Linked DNA regions of Homo sapiens: all the other regions are linked to region 1. Evidence: fine-mapped expression QTL. A gene starts in region 1. Each other region holds a variant in brackets. All regions are shown on one strand. Distances are from middle to middle.

Evidence for each region. PIP is the estimated chance that this variant, and not a neighbour inherited with it, causes the effect.
Region 2: its variant is the best candidate, but not a certain one, in a credible set for the expression of CYP2S1 in blood mononuclear cells (TOPMed, PIP 0.80).
Region 3: its variant is the best candidate, but not a certain one, in a credible set for the expression of CYP2S1 in whole blood (INTERVAL, PIP 0.89).

The regions. Positions count from the first base shown.
Region 1 is chr19:41,190,296-41,195,848 of GRCh38, forward strand. CYP2S1 (cytochrome P450 family 2 subfamily S member 1) reads left to right here and starts at 2,924. Exons shown (of 9, transcript NM_030622.8): 1 at 2,924-3,146; 2 at 4,249-4,414. The coding sequence starts at 2,970. LOC124904790 reads right to left here and starts at 2,757. Exons shown (of 3, transcript XM_047439802.1): 1 at 2,685-2,757. The coding sequence starts at 2,757. It also overlaps the pseudogene RN7SL718P. RefSeq lists enhancers at 2,450-2,950, 4,261-4,773 and a silencer at 2,863-2,952.
Region 2 is chr19:41,238,745-41,244,378 of GRCh38, forward strand. It overlaps AXL (AXL receptor tyrosine kinase), which reads left to right. Exons shown (of 20, transcript NM_021913.5): 9 at 420-570; 10 at 950-976; 11 at 4,139-4,271; 12 at 4,872-4,963. It also overlaps the pseudogene TRK-TTT10-1. Among named protein-coding and RNA genes, the nearest start is that of AXL, 22 kb to the left of the region's middle. The variant T/C (reference allele first, on the strand shown) is at 3,442.
Region 3 is chr19:41,217,675-41,223,308 of GRCh38, forward strand. It overlaps AXL (AXL receptor tyrosine kinase), which reads left to right and starts at 1,549. Exons shown (of 20, transcript NM_021913.5): 1 at 1,549-1,803; 2 at 2,962-3,184; 3 at 3,472-3,572; 4 at 4,206-4,382. The coding sequence starts at 1,719. RefSeq lists enhancers at 690-1,514, 3,765-4,702 and a silencer at 1,123-1,262. The variant G/C (reference allele first, on the strand shown) is at 2,211.

The sequences.
Region 1 (5,553 bases):
GCAAGTGAAAAGATGGTGATACCTTTTACAGAGGTAAGGAAGGAGGTGAGAGAAAGTATTCCCAGATGGGGTGGGAAGCTGGTACAGCCCACTTTGCAGGAGGTGGGGGAATCGGGAATTCTTTTATATCCATGAAGTTTGAGATGTCTGTTAGCTCTCCCAGGGGTAGAACAGAGGGAGCAGATAGGCTCAAGGTTGGATTTGGAACGTCCTAGAAACCTTCCAGAACAAGGCAAAGGAGGAACTGAGAACTGGCATTTACTTCATAGCAAGAGCGTATGAGCCTCCCCACCCCTCCTCCTTTGGCTTCAGGGCACCCCTGGAATGTTAGAGGCTAGAATCAATGCTAAAGAAGACCACAGTCAAGGATTCCCCAGACTCCAGGGAGCACTCTGGCTATGCTCTTGAGAGAAAGGGCTCTGGACTAGAATACAAATTGCAAGATTGCAGGCCGGGGGCAGTGGCTCATGCCTGTAATCCCAGCACTGTGGGAGGCCGAGGTGGGTAAATTGCCTGAGGTCAGGAGGTCGAGACCAGCCTGGCCAACATGGTGAAACCCCAACTCTACTAAAAATACAAAAGTTAGCTGGGAGTGGTGGTGGGCGCTTGTAATCCCAGCTACTCAGGAGGCTGAGGCAGGAGAATCACATGAACCCAGGAGGCAGAGATTGCAGTGAGCCAAGATCGTGCCACTGCACTCCAGCCTGGGCAACAGAGCGAGACCCTGTCTCAAAAAAAGATTGTGAAAATTCTAAGAATCTAATTTTTTTTTTTTTTTTTTTTTTTTTGAGACGGAGTCTCGCTCTGTCGCCCAGGCTGGAGTGCAGTGGCGGGATCTCGGCTCACTGCAAGCTCCGCCTCCCGGGTTCACGCCATTCTCCTGCCTCAGCCTCCCAAGTAGCTGGGACTACAGGCGCCCGCCACTACGCCCGGCTAATTTTTTGTATTTTTAGTAGAGACGGGGTTTCACCATTTTAGCCAGGATGGTCTCGATCTCCTGACCTCGTGATCCGCCCGCCTCAGCCTCCCAAAGAATCTAATATTTTAAAACTCCAGCATATGCAACTCAAAGCTCATCTAATTATACACTTAAGAGTTATGTATTTCATTGTATATAAGATACCTTGAGGAACAAAAAGTATCTGTAAACAAATACTGAGCTCTAGCTACTGATATGCATGCTGATGTATTTGGGAGTGAAGTGTACTGGTATCTGCAACTGACTTTGAAATGCTTAAAAAAAAATCAATGGATAGGCAAAATGAACAGATATGTAATGAAAAAAGGGCCAGGCACAGTGGCTCATGCCTGTAATCCCAGCACTTTGGGAGGCTGAGGTGAGAAGATCACCTGAGGTCAGGAGTTTGAGACCAGCCTGGTCAACATGGCAAAAACCCCGTCTCTACTAAAAATACAAAAAATAGCCAGGCATGGTGGTGCACGCCTGTAATCGCAGCTACTTGAGAGGCTGAAGCAGGAGAATTGCTTGAACCCGGGAGGCAGAGGTTGCAATGAGCCAAGACTGTATGCTATTGCACTCCACTCTGGGCAACAGAGTGAGACTCTATCTCAAACAAAAAAAGAATAGATAGGTAACAAAGAAAGGATAATAAAATGGTGGAATCTGATGGGTATACAGGTGTTCACTGTATGTTTGAAATTTTAATATTTTTATAATAAAATACGAAATCAAAATGCAAAGCAAACAAAGTAACTGCCCTGCTGAAAACCCCTCCAGACAGCTTCCGTTTGCAATAGAAATAAAATGCAGTCTTTTCCAAGACCTTGCAAGATGGCCCCTGCAGACTTCATGAATCTTATCTCCTACATTCAATCTTTGAAAATATAACAAATATTTATTGAGTGCCTACTGTGTGTCAGGCACTGCACTATATGTTGGGGATACAGCAGTGAACCAAACCTACAATAATTCATGCACAAATGGTTCTAACATTCTTCCTTCTCAAGAAGCCCATTCCCCTGGCAGGCCTTCTCACTTCCTGAAATTGTTTTCATCTCATCTTCATCTGCATGTGGATATGAGCTCAGGAAGGCCAGAGCCCTTCTCTCCATCGCTCATAGCTGCACCCTCGGGTCTAGAACAAGGTCTTGTTTATAGTAAGACCTCAATAACAGTTAGTTGCAGAAATATTAGCTAACATCTATTTAGTGCTTGTTACATGTGCACCTGCGTCTGCTTTAAATGGTGTGCACAGATGTACTATTTAATCCTGAAAACTAGCCCCATTTTACAAGGCTAACAGAGGCACAGAGGAATTAGGCTGTGAATTCAAGCAGTCTGGCTTCAGCCATCACGGTCCTAACCGCTCTGCAAACTGCCTCTAAACGAATGAATGAATGACTCAATCATTCTAACTGGCCCAAGTCAAAATATTAACTCTGCCACTCAGCCAAGTTGACCTGGGGCCAACCGATTTATCTCCCTGGACTTCAGATTGTTTATCCTTAAAGGTCAAGTCCTTCCTCTCAGTTCGTGAAGATGTAAGATGCTGGAGAAAATTGACTCAAAGACACCCCATACACGCACGCACACAGGAACCCACATCCGAACAATGAGCGAGGTAGGAGCTGGGGAGAGTGGCGCGGGGTCACCGCCAGATGCGGGGTGTGGCAACCTCCAGGCGGCCAAAGTCTCTGACTTCCAGGTTCTTCTGTTTGCTTACTCCCTATCCGGGGGCCCAAGGCGCTGTCTCCGCCGCCCAAGCCCCGCGTAAACCTGGGTGACCTCGGAGACATCCGTTGGAGCATGAGTTCCCGACATCAGGCGGCGGCGGTGGTCCGGGAGAAACCCGGCGGCGGGGAGATAAGCCTGCCCAGGAGGCAGGGGGCTGGGCTAGCTGCCCCGCCCCGCGCCTGACTTCGTTGGGGAGGGAGACGCCCGGCTCCCGCCCCTAACTAGCCCAGCCGCGCGGAGCGCCTGGGAGAGGAGAAGGAGCCGACCTGCCGAGATGGAGGCGACCGGCACCTGGGCGCTGCTGCTGGCGCTGGCGCTGCTCCTGCTGCTGACGCTGGCGCTGTCCGGGACCAGGGCCCGAGGCCACCTGCCCCCCGGGCCCACGCCGCTACCACTGCTGGGAAACCTCCTGCAGCTACGGCCCGGGGCGCTGTATTCAGGGCTCATGCGGGTAAGGGGCTCTGGGGACGTCCTGGCTAGGGGTGGGAGGATTCCTGGGAGAGAAACCCGAGTGCCAGGGTGAGGGGCTTTTCGGGTATCCTAGGGAGGAGGCAGGGGCAGGGGTCCCAAGGCAAAGGGGCTGCTGCTGTCCTGGGGTTGGGGGCAGGAGCAGGTTGTCCAGGGCTGAGAAGGGGAGAGGTGCCCGGGAGAGAGGATCGTGGGGTGGGGGACCAGGGCTAGGAGGGGCAGAGACCTCTGCCTACAGAATCCTGGGAAGGTGATGGGCAGGGACCGAGGCTGAAAGAGACAGGAGTCCTCCAGCCGAGGAGAAGCTGATGCAGCTGGGCTTGTCCCAGAGGGAGAGGTAGCTGGAGCCATACAGGTGGGGCATGCTGAAGAGGGCACAAAGAAGAAAAGGGGGAGGCGTCCCTGCGGGGAGTTGGAGGCAGAGAAGAGGCTGGAGGGTTGCAGGCTCAGAGAGGGGGTCCCGCTGAAGGAATCTGCCAGCAGAGAATGCAGGATGGGAGGATGGGTGGAGCTCAGTTGGGAGTTCCTGGGACTGGGGAGGAAGGAGAGCAAGAAAGAAGGCAGAGGCAGCCCCAGCCTTAGGGGATAGCAGGTGGGAGTGGGCAGAGGCCTGAAGTTTCCCATTCAAAAGGATTCTGGGTGACTTCAAGGACGTAGAAAAAAGGGTGGGGTCTTGGGGGAGAGATGGGGCGGATACTCAGCAGTGTCTGCTCCAGAATTTCAGGGTTTTGTGGTGACTGAAAGGGGTGGCTGGATATTTGGGGGGCAGGGAGGGCCCTAAGGAATTAAGGGAGACCCAAACTGCTTCTGGATTGCCCAGCGTCAGAGGTTAGGGTTCAGCAGGAAGCAAGGGAACGACAGGAAGTTGGGGGATGCCACTGAAGGATGTACTGGGGGAGGAGGCCCGGGAGCCTAGTGCAAAAAGAGAACTGAGCCTCAGCTATTTCTGCTGGGATGGGGGCAGGTTCCTGGTAGAGGGCGTAGAAGCTAGACCCGGTGGCTCCTCAAGTGACAGGGGCCATGATGGAGACACCTTGGATCGAAGAGGTCACAGCACCCTCCTCTTTCTTCCTCCCTACCCCCAGCTGAGTAAGAAGTACGGACCGGTGTTCACCATCTACCTGGGACCCTGGCGGCCTGTGGTGGTCCTGGTTGGGCAGGAGGCTGTGCGGGAGGCCCTGGGAGGTCAGGCTGAGGAGTTCAGCGGCCGGGGAACCGTAGCGATGCTGGAAGGGACTTTTGATGGCCATGGTAAGTCAAGGGCTGCTAGGCCCTCCGCTCACAGCCTGCCACCACTTACTGGTGTGTGACCTTTGCACATGGCTTAGTCCCTCTGTTGCCTCATCTGTCAAATGGAGTGATAACAGTGCCCATCAGCCGGGTGCAGTGGCTAGTGCCTGAAATCCCAACACTTTGGGAGGCGGAGGTGGGTGGATCACTTGAGGTCAGGAGTTCGAGACCAGCCTGGCCAACATGGTGAAACCCTGTCTCTACTAAAAATATAAAAATTAGCTGGGCATGGTGGTGCGTACCTGTAATCCCAGATACTTGGGAGGTTGAGGCAGGAGAATCGCTTGAACCCGGGAGGCAGATGTTGCAGTGAACCAAGACTGTGCCACTGCACTCCAGTCTGGGCAACAGAGTGAGCCTCCATCTCAAACAAACAAACAAAAAGCAGTGCCCATCATGTAGGATTGAGTGATTGAGTGAGGACTGAGCCTTGTGCAAAGTGAGCACTCACTAATCACCAGGTTGTAGTATCAGTGATAACCATCAATGATCCAGGTAAAGCCCTGAGGGTTCAGAAAGATGCCGGAGCGCTTTCAAGGTGCTGGGGATTGGTGGGCAAGCCCTCGAATAATAGAAACAGTTCTCTGTATTACAACAGAAAGCAGGAGGCCCATGCTGGGTGCTGCCAGGAACTCAGTAGTAACTAAGACAGCACCGGTGCTGCTTCCCCAGCGCACCTAGGCCAGTGGGGAAACAGACTCACCACACAGTCCCAGCCCAGAGTGGTCAGGGCCAAGATGGGGAAGCACGGGGAGAAAGGTCAGGGTGGGATGGGGAGGGGTCAGGGCAAGAGGGGTCAGGGCCAGGCTGAGGGAAGCCCTGGGACTGTAGGAATTTAGAGGAGGTACCTGACCCGGCATGTTTGGTGAGGGAGCTTCAGGAAGTCTTCCTGGAAGAGAGGCTGTCGGAGCTGAGACTCATAAGATGAGTGGGGAGGGTGTTCCAGGCAGAAAGACCAGCACCTACAAAAGCATGACTTTGAGAGAAGCATTCATCCATTCAACTGATGAATTTTCAGACTGGGCACGCTGGCTCATGCCTGTAATCCCAGCACTTTGGAAGGCTGAATGGGGAGGATGACTTGAGCCTAGGCATTTGTG
Region 2 (5,634 bases), 48 kb after region 1:
TTCACATTCACATTCTGGGGAGAATAAGGGGGTCTAAGGGAGGGCATGGGGAATGGCTGTTTTTGAACCACTGCAAAAGCATTTCAGCAGACTCATATTTACTATATAACGATTTTACAGCAGATAGTTATATAGCACCTTGGGGAAGGGGTACCTTTTCCTGATTTTCACAAAGGCACTCCTATCAGGGCTAGCAATACCCTGACATAGGGAGGGAGGATGGAAAGGGAAGCTAGAAGGGGATGGAGGGATACAGGTTAAAGGATGAGGATGAGAGATGAAGGGGAGGACGAGGAAGGATGAGGAGTTGGAGGATGGGGAGAGCGTTTTGAGAAAGAGATGGGGCATTGAGCCCGAGAGTGAAGGCTTAACAGCTGGGGGGTAAGGTTCTACCCTGATGCCACTTCTGGACCTCCTAGGTGCTAATGGACATAGGGCTAAGGCAAGAGGTGACCCTGGAGCTGCAGGGGGACGGGTCTGTGTCCAATCTGACAGTGTGTGTGGCAGCCTACACTGCTGCTGGGGATGGACCCTGGAGCCTCCCAGTACCCCTGGAGGCCTGGCGCCCAGGTAAGTCCAAAGCCATGCCCAACCTGCTTCAACCCTGTCTCTCCCTGACAGCCCTGACTTACTCCTTGTACCTTTCAGTGTTACCGCAACTTAGGCCCTGTTCCTACCCTGAGCCTTACTGAGAGCTGCCCTCACTCCCTTACCCATGCCAACCCCTCACTCCCTTACCTGTGCCACGGCCTCACTCCTTTACCCGTGCCACACCCTCACTCCCTTACCCGTGCCACACCCTCACTCCCTTACCCGTGCCAAACCTTCACTCCCTTACTCGTGCCACACCCTCACTCCCTTACCCGTGCCACACCCTTACTCCCTTACCCGTGCCACGCCAGTCTTGTCCTCTCTGAGCACATCTCCTCTCTGTCCTTTCTTCTCACAGGGCAAGCACAGCCAGTCCACCAGCTGGGTAAGGGCTTCCACACCCCATCTCCTCCTTCCCTACCCTCAACACCTAGTGGGGGCACTGTCACCATGCATACTCATTGCACATCCCTTTCATGTTTCTCTAACTCATCACTCTAACCTACTTCTTGAGTTTGTGTGGTCCTTGATGGAGGTGCCTATAATGGCCTAGCATAGCACATTGTAGGTATTCAGGCAATGACAGATGAGTGGGTGGATGGATGAACAAATAGATGGATGGATGGATGGATAGATATATGGAGGGTGGATGGGTGGGTGGGTCAATGGATGAATAGAGGATGGATAGGCGGGTGAACAGATAAATGACTGGATGTCGAGTGGATAAATGGATGGGTAGATGGATGGGTGGATGGATGGATGGGTGGATATATGGAGAATGGATGGGTGTGTGGGCCAATGGATGAATAGAGGGTGGATAGGTGGGTGAACAGATAAATGACTGGATGGTGAGTGGATAAATGGATGGGTAGATGGATGGGTGGATGGATGGGTGGGTGGATATATGGAGGGTGGATGGATGGATGGTTGGATATATGGAGGGTGGATGGGTGGGTGGGTCAATGGATTAATAGATGGGTGGATAGGTGGATGAACAAAAGATGACTGGGTGGTGAGTGGATATATGGATGGGTAGATGGGTGGATGGATGGATGGATGGATGGATGAATGGATGGTTGGATAAATGGATGGATGGACAGATGGATGGATTTGTGAGTGGATGAATGGATGGGTAGAAAGGTGGATGGATGGATGAATGAGGTATCCTCCTCACATCCATCCCTCTCAAATATTTCTCTAACAATTCTCAAACATTCCTCCTACACCCATTGTCCCCTCTGGGCACTATTATGGTTCACTCTTGTAACTCAACCCACTAGCCTTCAATACTCCTCACATCCCTTCCTACATTTCTTCACATACGCTTTCCACGCTTATTCCACCCTCCTTTCACATATATCCCATTATAATCCGTTCCTCCCACATGACCCCAAAGGCCCATTGCACAACACACTTCTCATTCACAAACTCTGCACACCTTGTATGCACTTACCATACCTTCCACATTGCAAACACTGAAAAACATTGTCCACAACTTTCCCACACCCGATTCTCCTTGCATGCTTACTGCACACTCCATAGACATCATTCCCTCACCCTTCACTAATCCCAACCCATCTCACTCTGCACACTCACCCTGAACCCCTTGCATACTCAGCACATAATGATCTTTATTTCTTACACACTCCATTCCACCCCTGCCCTTTTTACACCCCCTTTCTGTGCACCCCATACTTCTCATCTGCCCTTCTAACATCTTTTGCATGCTCACTGCACACTTCTCTCACACTGCAATTACATCCTTAAAATTCCTTGCTCACTCCTTGTATCTAAGACTTCACGAATACTCTTCCCACTTCACACACCCCCAACTTTTCCAGCAGCCATCCAACCCTGTATATGCTTACCATGCCCCTTTGGATATTTATTTCACCCTCATTCCTGGCTTTATGGAAACCATTGTGGCCGGGTGCAATGGCTCACGCCTGTAATCCCAGTACTTTGGGAGGCCTGAGACAGGTGGATCACCTGAGGTCAGGAGTTCAAGACCAGCCTGGCCAACATTGGCGAAAACCCATCTCTACTAAAAATACAAAAATTAGCTGGGCCTGGTGGTGCGAGCCTGTAATCCCAGCTGCTCGGGAGGCTGAGGCACAAGAATTGCTTGAACCTGGGAGGCGGAGGTTACAGTGAGCCAAGATCATGCCACTATACTCCAGCCTGGGCAACACAGCAAGACTCTGTCTCAAAAAAAAAAAAAAAAGAAAGAAAGAAAGAAAAAAAGAAAGAAAAGAAAAAGAAAAGAAAAAAAAATTAGCCAGGTGGCACAGACCTGCAGTCCCAGCTACTCAGGAGACATGGTGAAACCCTGTCTCTACCAAAAAAAGAATACAAAAATTAGCTGGGCATGGTGGTGCACACCTGTAATCCCAGCTACTTAGAAGCTGAGGCAGGAGATTTGCTTGAAACTGGGAGGCAGAGGTTGCAATGAGCTGAGACCGGGCCACTGCACTCCAGCCTGGGTGAAAGAGTGAGACCCTGTCTCAAAAAACAAACAAACAAAAAAAGAGACAAAGAAAACCCTTTTGTAGTCATTGCATTCTCTTCAAAAGATGTTCCTTAGTCCGCCCTCCTTGCACACGCTTCATGCACCATCCTACACTGCAAGGATCTTCTTCCCCACTCACCTGCTTATCTACACTCTAGTCCACCCTTCTTGCACAATCATCACATTTCTCACACTAACCTATGCTGCTTGAGATTTCTCCACACCCATCTCATGTTCATCTAGCCCTCTTGGCACACTCATAACGCGTTCCACACATCTCTCCCTCCCATTCCACACTCACTGCACACTCCTCAAATATCCATTCCACTCTTCTGTTTTTT[T/C]GGATCTTGGTGGCATAATATTTGGTAGCTTAAAGTAAGGAAAACTGCAAACGCCCAAACAGAGACTTGAACCCTGAACCCTCAGGTTAAAAGTCTGATGCTCTACCACCTGAACTATCCTGGCACTCTCTTTTTTTTTTTTTTTTTTTTTTTTTTGAGATGGAGTCTTGCTCTGTCACCCAGGATGGAGTGCAGTGGCCCAGTCTCGGCTCACTGAAACCTCCACCTCCCAGGTTCAAGCAATTCTCCTGCCTCAGCTCCCGAGTAGCTGGGATTGCAGGTGTGCACCACCACCCCAGCTAATTTTTGTATATATTTTGTTTAAGTAGAGACAGGGTTTCATCATGTCGGCCGGGCTGGTCTTGAACTCCTTGCCTCAAGTAACCCACCCGCCTTGGCCTCCCAAAGTGCTGGGATAACAGGCATGAGCCACCACACCTGGCCTCCATCCCACTCTTAACTCACCCATCCTACAACTTTCACACACTTCTGCTTTAACCTGCACTTGTATCACATCCATTGCATGCCCTGTCCAGCCCAGCCCATTCAGATATGTGAATGCATCCATCACACACCTCATCAAGTATGTGCACATCTTTGCCGAGGCCTTCTGCCTCCCTCCCACATCACCCCTTTGGGTCCCAGAGAGCTGGATCCAAGGCTTCATCCATGACCTGTTCCTCATACCCCCTGATAGTGAAGGAACCTTCAACTCCTGCCTTCTCGTGGCCCTGGTGGTATGTACTGCTAGGAGCAGTCGTGGCCGCTGCCTGTGTCCTCATCTTGGCTCTCTTCCTTGTCCACCGGCGAAAGAAGGAGACCCGTTATGGGTGAGTTGGAACCACATGGGGAGGCTGTGTGGCCTGGGATGGAGAGGCTGGAGGCAGGGAGGCCAGTGAGGAGGCTGGTGCAGGAGGAGTGATGACTAAGAATCAGAATGAGGGCAAGGGAAGCCAGGCGTGGTGGCTCACGCCTGTAATCCCAGCACTTTGGGAGGCTGAAGCAGGTGGATCACTTGAGGTCAGGAGTTTGAGACCAGCCTGGCCAACATGGCGAAACCCTGTCTCTACTGAAAAATGCAAAAATTAGCGGGAAGTGTAGGCACACGCCTGTGGTCCCAGCTACTTGGGAGGCTGAGGCACGATAATCACTTGAACCCGGGAGATGGAGGCTACAGTGAGCTGAGATCGCATCACTGCACTCCAGCCTGGGTGACAGAGTGAGATCCTGTTTTCAAAAAAAAGAATGAGGGCAAGGGGGTGTGTGGAATGAATGGAAGGCAGAAGGTAGCTGCCCAAGGCATGCTCAGCAAATGTTAGCACAGAGGGCAGGCAGGGCTTGAGGCTGAGATGGTGCTTGCTCAACTGCTGGTTGAGTAGGGGGTTCCACATGGTTTTTCCCTGCCCTCACCTACTCCCCCTCCCCCCCAGAGAAGTGTTTGAACCAACAGTGGAAAGAGGTGAACTGGTAGTCAGGTACCGCGTGCGCAAGTCCTACAGTCGTCGGACCACTGAAGCTACCTGTAAGTGAACCCTATGCCCCACTGCCCTGGCCTGGATCTAAAGGCTGTAGAGAATCTGGCCTGCTGGGCTTCTGTACATGTGTGAGCCAAAAGTTTCTAAAGGCCTTGGGATACTAGAATGTCAGAACCACAGACCCTAGAAATAACAGATTTGTGGAACCACAAAGAACTTTCAAGGAATAGAATCTTAGACACAGTAAATCTTAGAAACACCAAGGCTGGGTGTGGTGGCTCATGCCTGTAATCCTAGCGCTTCGGGGGGCCGAGGTGGGAGGATCACTTGAGCCCAGGAGTTCGAGAACAGCCTGGGCAGCATGGTGAAACCCTGTCTCTACAAAAAAAAAAAATTAGCCAGGTATGGTGGTGTGCCCCTGTACTCCCTGCTACTCGGGAGGCTGAGGTAGGAGGATCACCTGAGCCCAGGGAGGTCAAGGCTGCAGTAAGCCGTGATCACACCACTGCACTCCAGCCTGGGTGACAGAGCAAGACCCTGTCTCAAAAAAGAAAAAAAAATAAAAGAAAGAAAAGAAACACCAAACCTCAGAGCCATTGGATCTTAGAAGATGTAATGATGATGATAATGATGAAGATAATGACAAGAAGAAAATGATGATGATGATGAAATAATGTTGAGATTAGATGGTGATGATGTGATAAAAATCACAGGCAAC
Region 3 (5,634 bases), 27 kb after region 1:
CCAGGGAGACAACGGTGAAGGGCCCTAAGTGGCCAGTGACAAGGAGCTGGGAGCTTGCCCTGAGGGCAGCAGGAGGCCATGGGCAAGCAGAGAAGGGACAGGGTAGGATTTGACTTTCAGAAACAGTCCTCTGGTTGCTAAATGGGAGAAAGGAGTGACAGTAGAGGCAGGAGAAGGCAGGATCAGACGGGGGTGCTGGGAAGGGGCAGGTAGAAGAGACATCAGGAGGCCAAACAGATAGGACTTTATGATGCACCGTAGGTATACCAGTACCCAAACACAGGTGGCCAAGAGCAGAGGGATAGACGCCCAGCCTCCTCCTCACAGACATCCAGGCATGCAGAGCCCTCCACGTGCCAAACACACAGGGCCGAGGAATGGAAGTGCAGCAGAGCCGATACGCAGGCAGCAGATCTGCAATAACCAGGACACACAGTCCCACCAGAAGGAGAGAGCAGTGGAATGATCAGGGCTCACTGCAGCCTCGATCTCTTGGACTCAAGCGTTCCTCTCACTCCAGCCTCCCTAGTAGCTGGGACCACAGGCACACGCCATGATACCTGGTTAAGTTTTAATTTTTAAACTTCTTGTAGAGATGGGGGTCTCAGTGCATTGACCAGTCTGGTCTCGAACTCCTGGGCTCAAGCGATCCTCCCACCTTGGCCTCCCAAAGTGCTGGGATTACAGGAGTGAGTTACTGTGCCCGGCCAACAACTATTCTTATTCCCATTTTACAGATGGACAAACTGAGGCTCAGGAGGCCAGTCACTTGCCTGTAGCCCACAGTTAGTGGTAGCACTGGGATTCCAACTTGGGTCCCCTTCATGTCGCCTGTATTTGGTGTCCCATTTAGGCGTCCATGCAGGTTTTGGCGTGTCTGAAGATCTGTGTCTCCCCAAGTAAGTGTCCCCCATGGATGCCCACCCAGCCGTGTCCTCCTGTCTCTGAGGTTTCTCCAGGAATCGAGCTCCTGGCCTGGCTTGTCTGAGTGTGTCTGTGGGCCAGTAGCATGCCCCTGCCCGTCTGGGTCCCTCTGCGTGTCTCTGCTTGTCCTAGCCTGTGTGTGTCAGTGACGTCTAAGAGTGTGTGTGCGTGCGTGCGTGCGTGCGTGTGTGTGTGTGTGTGTGTGTCCTTGTCCGAGGAGCCGAGAGAGTGAGGGGGAATGAAGGGCCAAGGAGGCCTGGCTGGGGCTGGGCTGGGGGTGGAGGCGGGGAGAGGGGCGTCACGGCCTGAGCTGAGAGGGGAGTGGAGTTCTGGAGGAATGTTTACCAGACACAGAGCCCAGAGGGACAGCGCCCAGAGCCCGGATAGAGAGACACGGCCTCACTGGCTCAGGACAGGGGGCACAGCCACCAGGGTCCCCTTCCCCCTCCTCAGCTCCCTCCCTGGCCCCTTTAAGAAAGAGCTGATCCTCTCCTCTCTTGAGTTAACCCCTGATTGTCCAGGTGGCCCCTGGGCTCTGGCCCTGGTGGGCGGAGGCAAAGGGGGAGCCAGGGGCGGAGAAAGGGTTGCCCAAGTCTGGGAGTGAGGGAAGGAGGCAGGGGTGCTGAGAAGGCGGCTGCTGGGCAGAGCCGGTGGCAAGGGCCTCCCCTGCCGCTGTGCCAGGCAGGCAGTGCCAAATCCGGGGAGCCTGGAGCTGGGGGGAGGGCCGGGGACAGCCCGGCCCTGCCCCCTCCCCCGCTGGGAGCCCAACAACTTCTGAGGAAAGTTTGGCACCCATGGCGTGGCGGTGCCCCAGGATGGGCAGGGTCCCGCTGGCCTGGTGCTTGGCGCTGTGCGGCTGGGCGTGCATGGCCCCCAGGGGTGAGTGATGGGGGCTCCTTGGGGCAGGGATCCCCTCGGAGGGGCTGGGGCAGGGGTAGGAGGTGGGGGATGATGGCAGGTGTGGGGGGCCTGGGCTGGCTTAGGGAGTTTCCTTGGGACCACAGAAAAGGGACTTCAAGGGAGGGAGACACAGACTCAGAGACACCAAGTGCGGCAGAGGGAGAGAAAGACTGAGAGAGGAACTGAAGGGCAGGGGGGACAGAAGAGAGGACCCGGAGAGACAGACAGACAAGGAGAAGCTGAGGGCAGGGGTGGGGGCTGGACCTGAGAAGGGGGCCATGGGGAGAGGGGCTGAGCTGAGGGTCGCCAGGAAGGAAGAAATCTTTCCGAAGGGGCACCGAGTCAGGCAGTGGGATGAGGAGGGCTCTGGAGCCCTGGGGGAAAAC[G/C]CTTCTCCCTGCCAACACCACCCCCCTGACCCGCCACTTGTCCCTACCCCACCAGTCCACTCCATCTCTGGGGAGGAGGCTCTCACTTTGTCTCTCTGTCTCTGCCTCCAGCTCTGCTATCTCTGTGGGTCTCTGTTTCTCTCTCTTTCACAGTCTCTGCCTTTATCTCTCCCTGCTCTCTGAGTCTCTCTCTCTCTTCTCAGCCTCCCTCTGTGACTGTATCCCCCCTCCGCCCCCACCTTTTCTTCTCTCTTGAGGGCTGTTTCTTCATTTTTTCTGTCTTGCCTTGTATCTGTGCTCCTCTCTGTCTCATCTCCCCTGCCTTTCTCTGGCTTCTCCCTCCGCCACCACCCTTATCTCCCCCCACCACCACCCTTATCTCTCTCCCCCAACCCCTGATTCTTCCCCTCCATCCACCAGCACCAGCGCGACCTGTTAAGTCTCTAGAGACCTAAGAGAGGACGGAGGGGGCAGGGGCTGGCCCTGCCAGGCAGTGCAGGGCGTGGGAGGCTGCCAGATCCCGAGCCTCCTTCCCGACGGGATGGACGCTAGATCCCAGTCCCTTGGGAGGGCTCCCGTCCTCCTCTCAGAGCCTCCGCCCTCCACCCCACTCTGAGGTCACTCTGCAACTATGTCGGCCTAAGGGCCTGGCGGGGTCCTGGCCGCCGGTGGGCAGGCAAGGACAGGGTGGAACTGAGGGCCGGAAGGAGCTGGGGGGTTCCTAAGCTAACTCTTCCCATCTCCCCTCCAGGCACGCAGGCTGAAGAAAGTCCCTTCGTGGGCAACCCAGGGAATATCACAGGTGCCCGGGGACTCACGGGCACCCTTCGGTGTCAGCTCCAGGTTCAGGGAGAGCCCCCCGAGGTACATTGGCTTCGGGATGGACAGATCCTGGAGCTCGCGGACAGCACCCAGACCCAGGTGCCCCTGGGTGAGGATGAACAGGATGACTGGATAGTGGTCAGCCAGCTCAGGTGTGTGGCCACATCCCCGAATCCCACTCCCACCTCCGTCACACAGAGGGCAGAAAGCCCACCTGGGTGGGAACCCCAGTTTGACCACTTGTCAGCCGTGCGGCTTTGAGCATGTGATGGAACCTCTAGGTTTCGTTTTCCTCTTCTGCAAAATGAGTTAATAATAGGACATACTTCGTGGTTGTCATGAGCTTCCAGACTGGACACCCTCTTTCCGTTCTGACAGACCCCCTCCCAGTGTCCAGCTCTGACCCTGAACCTCTCTGTCTCTCCTCTTGCCCTGTCAGAATCACCTCCCTGCAGCTTTCCGACACGGGACAGTACCAGTGTTTGGTGTTTCTGGGACATCAGACCTTCGTGTCCCAGCCTGGCTATGTTGGGCTGGAGGGTGAGCTCTGGGGTCAGGGGTCCTGAGGGGTCAGAGGACATGTGGCGCTCATAGGTTGTGGGAAGTCAGGAATCCTGAGGGGTCAAGGTCAAAGGGTGCTGGAGGATTCAGGATGAACCTAGCGTCATACAGCCTAAGAATGTCAGAGTTTTGGGTGGTCAAGAAGCTGGGAGTCCATATAAGTTATGGTGCCAAGGCTGGGGGATTATATGTTCTGGGTGAAAAGACTTCTTGGGGGTAGTTGGATGTCCTAGGCATCAGACACCATCAGGTCACAGGAGGCCATTCTGGTCTTCAGATAAGGCGTCAGAGGCACGCAACGTACCCCTGTCCCCACGACCCCAGCGGTCTCTTTTTTCTCATCCATAGAATGAGATGAGGATGAGCTGTCAGACATTCTGGAAGAGAGACATGAGGAGCTCAGCTATCGTGGGGGGTCTGACATGGGAGGAATCAGATATTGGGGTCACGTGTGTGTTGGGTATGGCTCAGGTGCCCTCGGGGATCAGATAAGGCAAGTCAATGACCCTGCAGGGTGGGTTTGCTGCCCAAAGCCTACAGCATCCTAGTGGTGAGTCAGGCATCTTGGGGCCTCAGAGGGACCCCAGCCTCTACCACTGCCCACCCCGCTAGGCTTGCCTTACTTCCTGGAGGAGCCCGAAGACAGGACTGTGGCCGCCAACACCCCCTTCAACCTGAGCTGCCAAGCTCAGGGACCCCCAGAGCCCGTGGACCTACTCTGGCTCCAGGATGCTGTCCCCCTGGCCACGGCTCCAGGTCACGGCCCCCAGCGCAGCCTGCATGTTCCAGGTGAGTCCGGGGATGTGGGTCAGCTCCGAATAGGGGGCCGGGCAGGGCTGAAGTCAGGAGCAAGGGAACATTGCTACCTCTGCGTGAGTGTCTGACTGTCCTTCTGTCCCTCACTGTCTGTCTCTCTCGTTTCTCCCTCTGAGTCTGTCTCTGCCTCTCTGTCTCTACCTATCTTATTTCTCTCCGTATGCCTTTTTCTGTCTCTTTCTGTCTCTTGGTGTGTGTGTCTTTCTGTCTCTCTTTGTATGTGTCTCTCTCTCTGTCTCTCTGCTTCTCTCTCCCTCCATTCACCCCGGCCTCTCTCTGAATAGAATTCTTTGTCCTGGGTTTCCTCTGAGCTGTTCCATGGCTCGAGTGCGTGTGGGCCTGGTGCCCCTTTGTCAGCCCTTGACCCAAGCAGGGCACCGGAATCAACCGTGCCCTCCTCTCCTCCGCCTCCCTCCACAACCGGCCCACCTCCTGCCCTAACAAGCCTGCTGGCCTCAGTCAAAGGGAGGATGTCCAGCCCGGTCCCCACTGGGGAGATGGAACCCAAAGAAGAGAGAGCAGGAAGAAAGTAGGAGACAGAGGCTGGGCGTGGTGGCTCACGCCTGTAATCCCAGCACTTTGGGAGGCTGAGGCGGGCGGATCACGAGGTCAGGAGATCAAGACCATCCTGGCTAACACGGTGAAACCCCATCTCTACTAAAAATACAAAAAATTAGCCGGGCGTGGTGGCGGGCGCCTGTAGTCCCAGCTACTCGGGAGGCTGAGGCAGGAGAATGGCAGGAACCCGAGAGGCGGAGCTTGCAGTGAGCCGAGATTGCGCCACTGCACTCCAGCCTGGGCGACAGGGCGAGACTCCATCTCAAAAGAAAAAAAAAAAAAAAGAAAGTGGGAGACAGAGAGAGATAGAATGACATACACTGGAAGGGACAGGCCACAGTGACCCAAGATGAACATAGACAGGACAGAGAGGCCGGGCATGGTGGCTCACGCCTGTAATCCCAGCACTTTGGGAGGCTGAGGCAGGTGGATCACTTGAGGCTGGGAGTTCGAGACCAGCCTGGCCAACATGACAAAACTCCATCTTTACCAAAAATACAAAAATTAGCCAGGCGTGGTGACGGGCATCTGTAGTCCCAGCTACTTGGGAGGCTGAGGCAGGAGAATCGCTTGAACCCGGGAGATGGAGGTTGCAGTGAGCCGAGATCACACCACTGCACTCCAGCCTGGGTGACAGAGCAAGACTCTGTCTCAAAACGAAAAACAA